Linked DNA regions of Homo sapiens. The protein of the gene in region 1 purifies or fractionates together with the protein of each later gene. This does not show direct contact. Each region holds a gene or a part of one and is shown in the gene's direction. Other genes may lie near its edges.

The links.
Region 2: the proteins of AMER1 (region 1) and NPHP4 purify together in Homo sapiens (co-immunoprecipitation; one large-scale study listed by IntAct). This does not show direct contact.

Annotation. Positions count from the first base shown.
Region 1 is NC_000023.11:64,195,621-64,199,428, reverse strand, and holds part of AMER1 (APC membrane recruitment protein 1), read left to right. Parts: intron 1-3,808. UniProt on the Homo sapiens protein: Regulator of the canonical Wnt signaling pathway.
Region 2 is NC_000001.11:5,908,715-5,912,522, reverse strand, and holds part of NPHP4 (nephrocystin-4), read left to right. Parts: intron 1-3,309; coding exon 3,310-3,371; intron 3,372-3,808. UniProt on the Homo sapiens protein: Involved in the organization of apical junctions; the function is proposed to implicate a NPHP1-4-8 module. Does not seem to be strictly required for ciliogenesis. Required for building functional cilia.

The DNA of each region.
Region 1 (3,808 bases):
CCACACAGCCTATAGAAGGTGAGGCTGGCATTCCAGTTCCGCACCAAGAAACTTCAGGTGAATTAGAATTCAGTTGAATCAGCATTGTTTGAGCTCCTGCTGTGTGCTAGTTGTAGTGACTGTAAGATGAAGGAGGGTCAATTTGAGAGAGATGAATGAACAGACCAAAGCCCGTCAGGATGAATTATACAAAGCTCAGTATGTAAACAAATCAGTTGAGAGGGGCTGGTGGGGGAATTGGGACAGGAGAGAGAAGTCCCAATTTGGGGTCTTGCTGCATCTGGAGTTGGTGAGATGCCCTCTGGGCAGGAGGTGCCCCTCAGCAGGAAGGCTGCAAATTAGGGGAGGAGCTGAAGGGGCTCTGCCAGCTGCATCTACAACTCCATCAGCCAACCAAGCCAAGCAGCCCTTCCTTTAGGCTCTGACCAAATAGTTTTGAGGGCAGTACTTGGCTATGGGTGTTAAAAATGGATCATTCAAGTTCCAGATCATCTGATAAGTCATTTTCTTCAAATAGCTCAAATTCTGCATCTTTGTCCACGTTGGCAGGTTTCTCGTTTTTGGGCCACTCAAACCTATCTCTTAAGGAAAAGGGGAGTAGAGTGACATGTCCTGTAGTTTGAGAGGAGTGGTGGTAGGGTTGCTGATGAGGAGAGCAGCCACAGGCTGGGTTGTTGGCCCCTAGATTCTGATGTCAGCAGGCTTCCTGGAATGTGTTTGGTAGGACCCAAACAGTGGCAACCAGTGAGGACTGGAAATGTGGCAAAGAAGGCTTAGCAGGGCTGGGACAGAGGTGGGATGGGATTGGGAGATTATAGTTCTTGCTGGTGTGAGGGTAAACTTTGCAGTTCTCTTGCTCAGTCTTCCTCCTTTGATTGGTGGCCTGCACAGTGCAGCAGAATGGCATGAAATTGAGACTCAACAGTTCTGGGAGCTAGTGTGGCTCTGTCACCATTTCACTATGTGACCTTGGACAAGTCTTTTCCCAAGTCTAGGCACAGTTTCCTTCTCTGTGACAAGGAGTTGCCATCCCCCACCAGGCCTGAGTAATGGGTGGCTGAGGAGGGCAAATGGGGGGGTATGGGAGTAGGGAGTGCTTTATAAAGTGGTAAATACCCTGAGGGTGAAGGATATCTGTTGATTTGCATTTCCTTTGATGTTGGTACTTTTAGCTGAGTTTGACCTGGGCTAGAGAACCTGGCTAGTTGAAAGTCCCAGATAATCCTTGGCTGCTAGCCAGTAGCTGACTCTTTTAGGTCCCTGAATATCAAAAGTTGGCTAAATGAGCAAGTAAAGCCTCCTATGACATGACCACACAGTTATCTTCATTTACCATTTGCCATTTGGGAAAACTGAGCCCCAAGGAGGTTTGGTGACTTACCCACAGAGCCCTAGGGAGCACCCTACTCAACCTGACTGAGATGATTTTACTTCTAGAAATTGTTCTACCACAGTTTGAATAAAATATGAATAAAAGTTGGTTACTATAATGTTTTTAGCTTCTGCTATGTAATGCACTTGATTTGGTACATTATGTGCATTGGTTTTACTTCTTACAATAGCCTTAAGAGGTAGGCACTCTCAATGACCTCATTTTACAGTTAAGGAAATTGAGGCATAAACATGGGAAAAAACTTGCTGGATTTCCCCTAGCTGGGCAGAGTTGATTCCAGCGCTGAAATGGCCAGCTCTCTGGAGGGCCATCCTCACCATTTTTTCTTTAACCAACCCTCCCCAACATACAGAAGGGCAGGTGGGCCTGAAGTGGGCTTGCTTTCAGGAAGACTGTTTGGAACAGGCCTGAGGAACTATGGCTGGTCAAGGCCATGTCTCTGGAGCTACTGCATAAATCCACTTGCTTCTTTTTCTTCCCCCAATTCAGCCCTCTTCAAGTTGGCCATGCTGGCCCCGGGAAGCTGATTTGGAGCAGAATGTGCAAGGCTCATATTGCAGCTGTCCCTTCTCCTTGAGAAGGGTCTCTAGGGCAGGTATGTGGCTGGCCTCCTGCCTATGTTTTAAGTGGAGAGGAGAAGGAAGAAGCTCTTCCTTTGTAGCCAGCCTTCCACTGGCCCCAGAATGGCTTGAATCTGGCTCAGGGAGCTGGAATGGCCCCAGCGCTTTCTACCACAGCCTGCTTTCTGCCATGATAGCAGCTGCTGCAGCAGGCAGTCCCTGCAAGGGACCACAGAGTGGCTTGGGAGGGTTCTCTTAACCCCCAGCCCACCTGAAACTCAGCCACACTGGTTAAGGAACATGAGGGTTGTGGGGCCCTGCATTTGGCAGTGCCACTTTCTTGACAGGACCCCCAGGGAAAGCCAGTCCCAGCCTAGGGGATCTGCAGAGTCTGTCCTTTGCTGTCTCCTTTGCTTTCTGCCCCACCTCACTCTCTTGGTGAACTCTTGTGGTCCTAAGTAAAGGCAGCATAACCCATTGAGGAAGGATAGCTTTGGCACCTGGTTGGATAGCAAAGAGTATGGAGAAGAGGCCTAAGGCAGAGGTAGCTAGGTGGGGCTACGCTAGGGAGCTACCAGCTATGGGTGACCCTGCCACCTTCCTTCCCAGTGTTCTGGGTGACATAGGCAGAGATACTGTGAATGACTGTGGGGGGACATGGCTCTGGGAGAGAGAACACAGAGTACCAGTTTAAGGCTGGTATCTGCCAGCAAAGATGACTCTGGACTTGGTTAGGAGAAGGGCCTGAACTGGACGGAGAGAAACTCCATCCCAGGGACACCCTGCGTAATTCATCTGTCTCCCACAACACACAGAGAGGGCTTTTCAAACCTCTTAGCAGAGGAGTTTGTATAGATATACACACCTTTTTAAAATCCCCTCATATCTGTCTCCCTCTCAGCATGGGCCAAGGCAGCAAGTCCCTGAGCTTCCCACAGTGAATGGCTTTCCCAAATGAACAGCCTTTAACACATGGTCAGTTGCTTCCTAAGAAACTGGGATCTGACCTGGAAGGAGTAATAATAACTGTAATGACAGTCTTTCTCATTTGCACTGTACTATACAGTTTATAAAGTGCTTTTTTTGTGCCTATTATCACATCAACTCATCACACCACTGTAGTTGGAGTGGGCAGGTAGAAGGATAGGTAGAGGAGCTGTTTTGATCTCAAAATAGCTCACAAGTACCTGCGTCTCAGCAGGCTACACTGGCCCATTCAGGGTCCCTTGGCAGATGGGAGGCTGACATGGCCTGGACCCCAGCCCTGTGGTCCATGGCTCCTTCCACAACACACTGCAGCTCCCTGTGACAGGAAAGGGGACAATACAGAGAGAGGTGAGTGGGCTGGCCTCTACCCTCACAGAGCATAGGAGCAAGGGCAAGGGAAAGCCCAAAGAGACTGTCTTCTAACTGGGGCGTCAAGGCTCTGGAAAGCAGCCTTCTTTGTGATTCAATTTGCCAAATCACTCTGTTCCCAGGAACTCCAGCCCCAAACCCAGCAGGACAAGTCAGCCTTTGATTCACAAGGATGTGTAGGTCCTAGAGTTTTTCACTTGGCTGTGAGGTTTTCCTTGAGGCCCAGCCTTACTGCCCAAGAAGTGTCTTTCTCCCTTTCACATTTATCTTGGAATATGTTTACAAGGTATAAAGAATGATACTCCACCAACCAGCTTTAGAAATAACAGGGGCTATTCTTTAAGGCAGCGGTTCCCAACCTTTTTGGAACCAGGGACCTGTTTCATGGAAGACAATTTTTCCATGGATGGAGAGGAGGAAGGTTTTGGGATAAAAGTGTTCCATCTCAGATCATCAGGCATTTGTTAGATTCTCATAAGGAGAGTGCACCCTAGATCCT
Region 2 (3,808 bases), on another chromosome or scaffold:
TGTGTTGCCCAGGCTGGAGTGCAGTGGCGCGATCTCGGCTCACCGAAAGCTCCGCCTCCCGGGTTCACGCCATTCTCCTGCCTCAGCCTCCTGAGTAGCTGGGACTACAGGTGCCCACCACCATACCCGGCTAATTTTTTGTATTTTTAGTAGAGATGGGGTTTCACCGTGTTAGCCAGGATGGTCTCGATCTCCTGACCTTGTGATCCACCCGCCTCGGCCTCCCAAAGTGCTGGGATTACAGGCGTGAGCCACCGTGCCCGGCCTATCGTCACTTTTTAACTTGCCGCGGCTGCCTTCCCAGTTCTGCACACACCGGCTGGTCTCCTCCCATCCCATTGCTCCCCTGCCCCACGCAGGATCTGCCGGGTTCTGCTGAGGTAGCTTCCATTTGCAGGAGCACCAGGATTGTGTCTAATGTTTTGCTGTTGTCGCAGCGCTGCCCCAGACAGCCTTGTGCTCGTCTGTCTGCTCACCGCAGCTGCTCCTACCTGTGTCCTGTGCACACGCATGCTGCTCCCGGTTCAGTTGCTGGCCCAGGTGCTTGTCAGCCAAGTCCTGTTATGTGGCGGAAGTCAGGCTTCCCAGACTCCACCGTGGTTTTTGGAAGACTCCTGGGGCCTGGAGTACAGCGGGTGCTCCCTGGCGGCCGCGCTGTCCTCTGGGCAGGACTATGAGTATAGTTTGGGAAGCACCTTAACCCATAACCACATCGAACATTAAAACAAAGAGATTCGAAACTGAGTTATTTCGTGGCCTTGGTGTGTCTCTTCCTGCTCTGCTTCACCGGTTGGATCTGAGTTTTGGGCCCTGGGGGTCTGGGCTTCCCACCAGGTATCTTTTTAAATGGCCACCTTTAATGGCCTTTTTAAATGGCCTTGTAGGTAGGTTTACTCTCTTGGAAGAAAAAATTGCATAAGTCATGATATAAAGAGTTACTTGAAAAAACTTTCCACACTGTATGCAAATTTGAGACGATGGGGAAATAAAATGCATGCGAGAAGTTCAGATGTGCTTGGAAGGTTTAACTTTTCATCCAGCTTTTCCTCCCCAAGAGGACGCACACAGGCACGGAGGGCTGGCCCCCGAGTGCCCGCTGTCTCTGCTGAAGATAATGGAGCCATTTCTGGCAATTTGTCCTCATTATCAAAATCAGCCTGCGGAGTTTTCCGAGTTCCCATTTACGGAGGAACGGCGTGGAGCTTCACTTACCACTCTGCTGTGTCATCTTTCAGGCTTTTTCTGGGAGGAGGTGGGCAGGGGTTTGCCGTACGGAGCTCTGAAATGGACTGTAAGAGGCACTCAGGGAATCTGGGGAGAGGCATCGGCTTTGAGGACAGCTGGGCCCCTGCAGAATCCTCATCTGCATTTTGCTTTTAGTGAGATGATATTTTCCTGGGGAAGCAGAGCTTGCTAGATCATTTGCTAACTCCCTCCGAGCACGTGAGCTCATTTATAGAAGGGCAGGTTCCTCTGACCAGAGTCTTTGTGCTCCTTGGAGCCACGTTACTGTGGCTGGTTACAGAGGAGCTGCGCGGGCCAAATGGGCGCTGCCCAGGAGGTAGTTGGACTGGGAGCTGTGCCCGCCAGGCTGGGCAGTTGGATCCTCTGAGGGTTGGGGGCTCCCTCTGGCCTTGCCCCAATGCCTTCCACCCATCCACAGGCCCTTAGCAGGGTTTCCACCAGATCCTGCAGCTGGGGAAGCACCTCCTTGGATGGGTTCTGGAAGCTGCTGGGAGAGGCACGGCGGGGATTGGCTCCGATGGTCGTGCAGCTCTGGTGTTAGGGCGGCACTTTCTGGATTTGGTTTCTCCTTGGTCGACAGCATTTTCCTTGTTGTTTTTGTTTTTTTGGGATTCAGAGCGGAACACGAAGTGGCTGAGCAGTCTCTATCCAGAGTGCCCAGCGTTTGACGTCACAGGCCTCTGTGCTGTGTGCTTGGTCCGTAGGTCCCGTAAGTGCCGGCCTGTGCTCTGTGCCATAGGAATTCAGGATACCAGGACATATAGGAGATTCGTTTGCCCAACCTTCATGGCAGCAGAGGCCACAGGAGAGGGAGGGAAGGCGAGCTGCTGGGCCCAAGATGTGGGCCACATGGGGGTGACGGGAGGTGGGACAGGGCCATGGGGGAAGCCTGATTTCTCCGGAGGTCTGGGTTATCCTGGAAGTCCGATGGGGAGTGGTAGTGTCTGCTGCAGTGGAGAGTCCTGTCACCGTGAAGGAGGCTGTCATGAGCCAGGTGGGGACAGGACATGGGCTGGAGACTGGGCTGTGGGCCTCAGGGAAGCCAGGCAGATGACTCAGTGTGCAGGGCTCCCACCCTGGCCTCTGAGTGGGCAGAGGTGGCCCCGTCAGGATGGGCTTGGGGTCTGGCTTGGTGGTTTCATGGTGGGCAAAGGCAAATGGCAGTGTATGTGAAATGACCGTAAGAGACGAGTGGCTATGGACGCTCCAGCACCGCTGTGGCAGGAGCCTGGTGGGTTTCAGAGACTCCAGCGATGCTGGGGCTTCCTCCTGCTGAGGTGCAGGGGCTGAGAGCCCTGGGTCTGCTGGGCCATGAGGTGTCCATGTGGCCTGGGGAGGGGTTGCAGAAGCAGCACAAATGCCAGCTGGGCTGAGGCGGGGCTGGGCAGGTACAGGTGGCCCTGGGAGGAGGCTGCTGGCTCTTTAGGCAGCCCCTGGATGCTTGGGAGGCAGCTGTGGCCTTATAAAGGGCCAAGGCAGTTCTCAGTCCCTGGCTCCAGGGGGACCCCATGAAGGGCTGGCCTTGCCTCCCCCAGGTGCGCCTCCCAGTGTTACCGGGCCTGCATGGAGAATCCTCAGCAGGACCTGGCGGACAGCTTGTGCTTAGTGGGTGTTCGTGAGGCCGCAAGCCAGGTTGGCAGTGTCTGCTCAGGAGCTTCTCGGTTAACAAAACAGCCGGAGTCAGGGAGCTGCAAGACTGGGGCAACCTCAGACCCCAGCTCTTCCGGGCAGGGAAGATGCAAAGATGACTAGTGAGGAGAAGCGTGTTAGGGAGCTCCAAGCACCCCAAGCTGTGAGACCTGCTGGCCCAGGAAGAACAGTGAGGACGAGGCCAGCTGTACCCCCTCTCCTGGCTGCTGGTGCATGCCAGGGCTCTAGATAGACAGCGACACTTTTGGGTGGCACCCTTGCTGCTGTTGCCCCTGAACGGTAACCAGCGGCTGCCCCTGTTACAGACAAGGTGGTGAGGCCTGTGGAGACCTGACTGCGTGGGGGTTCAGGGGCCCACTGCCCCCAACACAGGCTGACACATTCCCTCTCCTACCCCACTGTGCTTCCTCCCAGGCCCGCCAGCGCCAGTACCTCGAGTTCTCGCTGCCCCGCAGAACTCACCTGTGGGACCAGGGGTAAGTCCAGGCCCCCCACGGCCTCCTTCAGAATTCCAGAGTCAATTACTTGCAAGAAAACCCTCTGTCCCCCCTTAAGCACAGTGGATCCCTGCGTGCTTCTGCGTGGCTGGGGAGGGCCTGCTGGCGGCGGCGGGGCTGTCCCCTCCTACCCTGTCTGTGCAGCCTGTCCCTGATGTTCTGACTCCCAGTGCGGGCTTTTAGTGGGGCTGCTGCTTGCAACCCCTATGCTGCTGTATGGGGCGTCTCCACATCTCCCTGGCAGCTGCATCTCATGGTGGCAACTCTCAGGACTGGACGGCCTTTGCTTTTTCTGAGAGACATCGAGGTGTGGTCCTCACCCTCTTTGCTCTCCCAGACTAACTCCACCAGTAGCGGTGCCTGGCAGCTATTGGTGTCCCCTGGCCCTGTCGGCCAAGCAGCCGATGCTGGTGGAG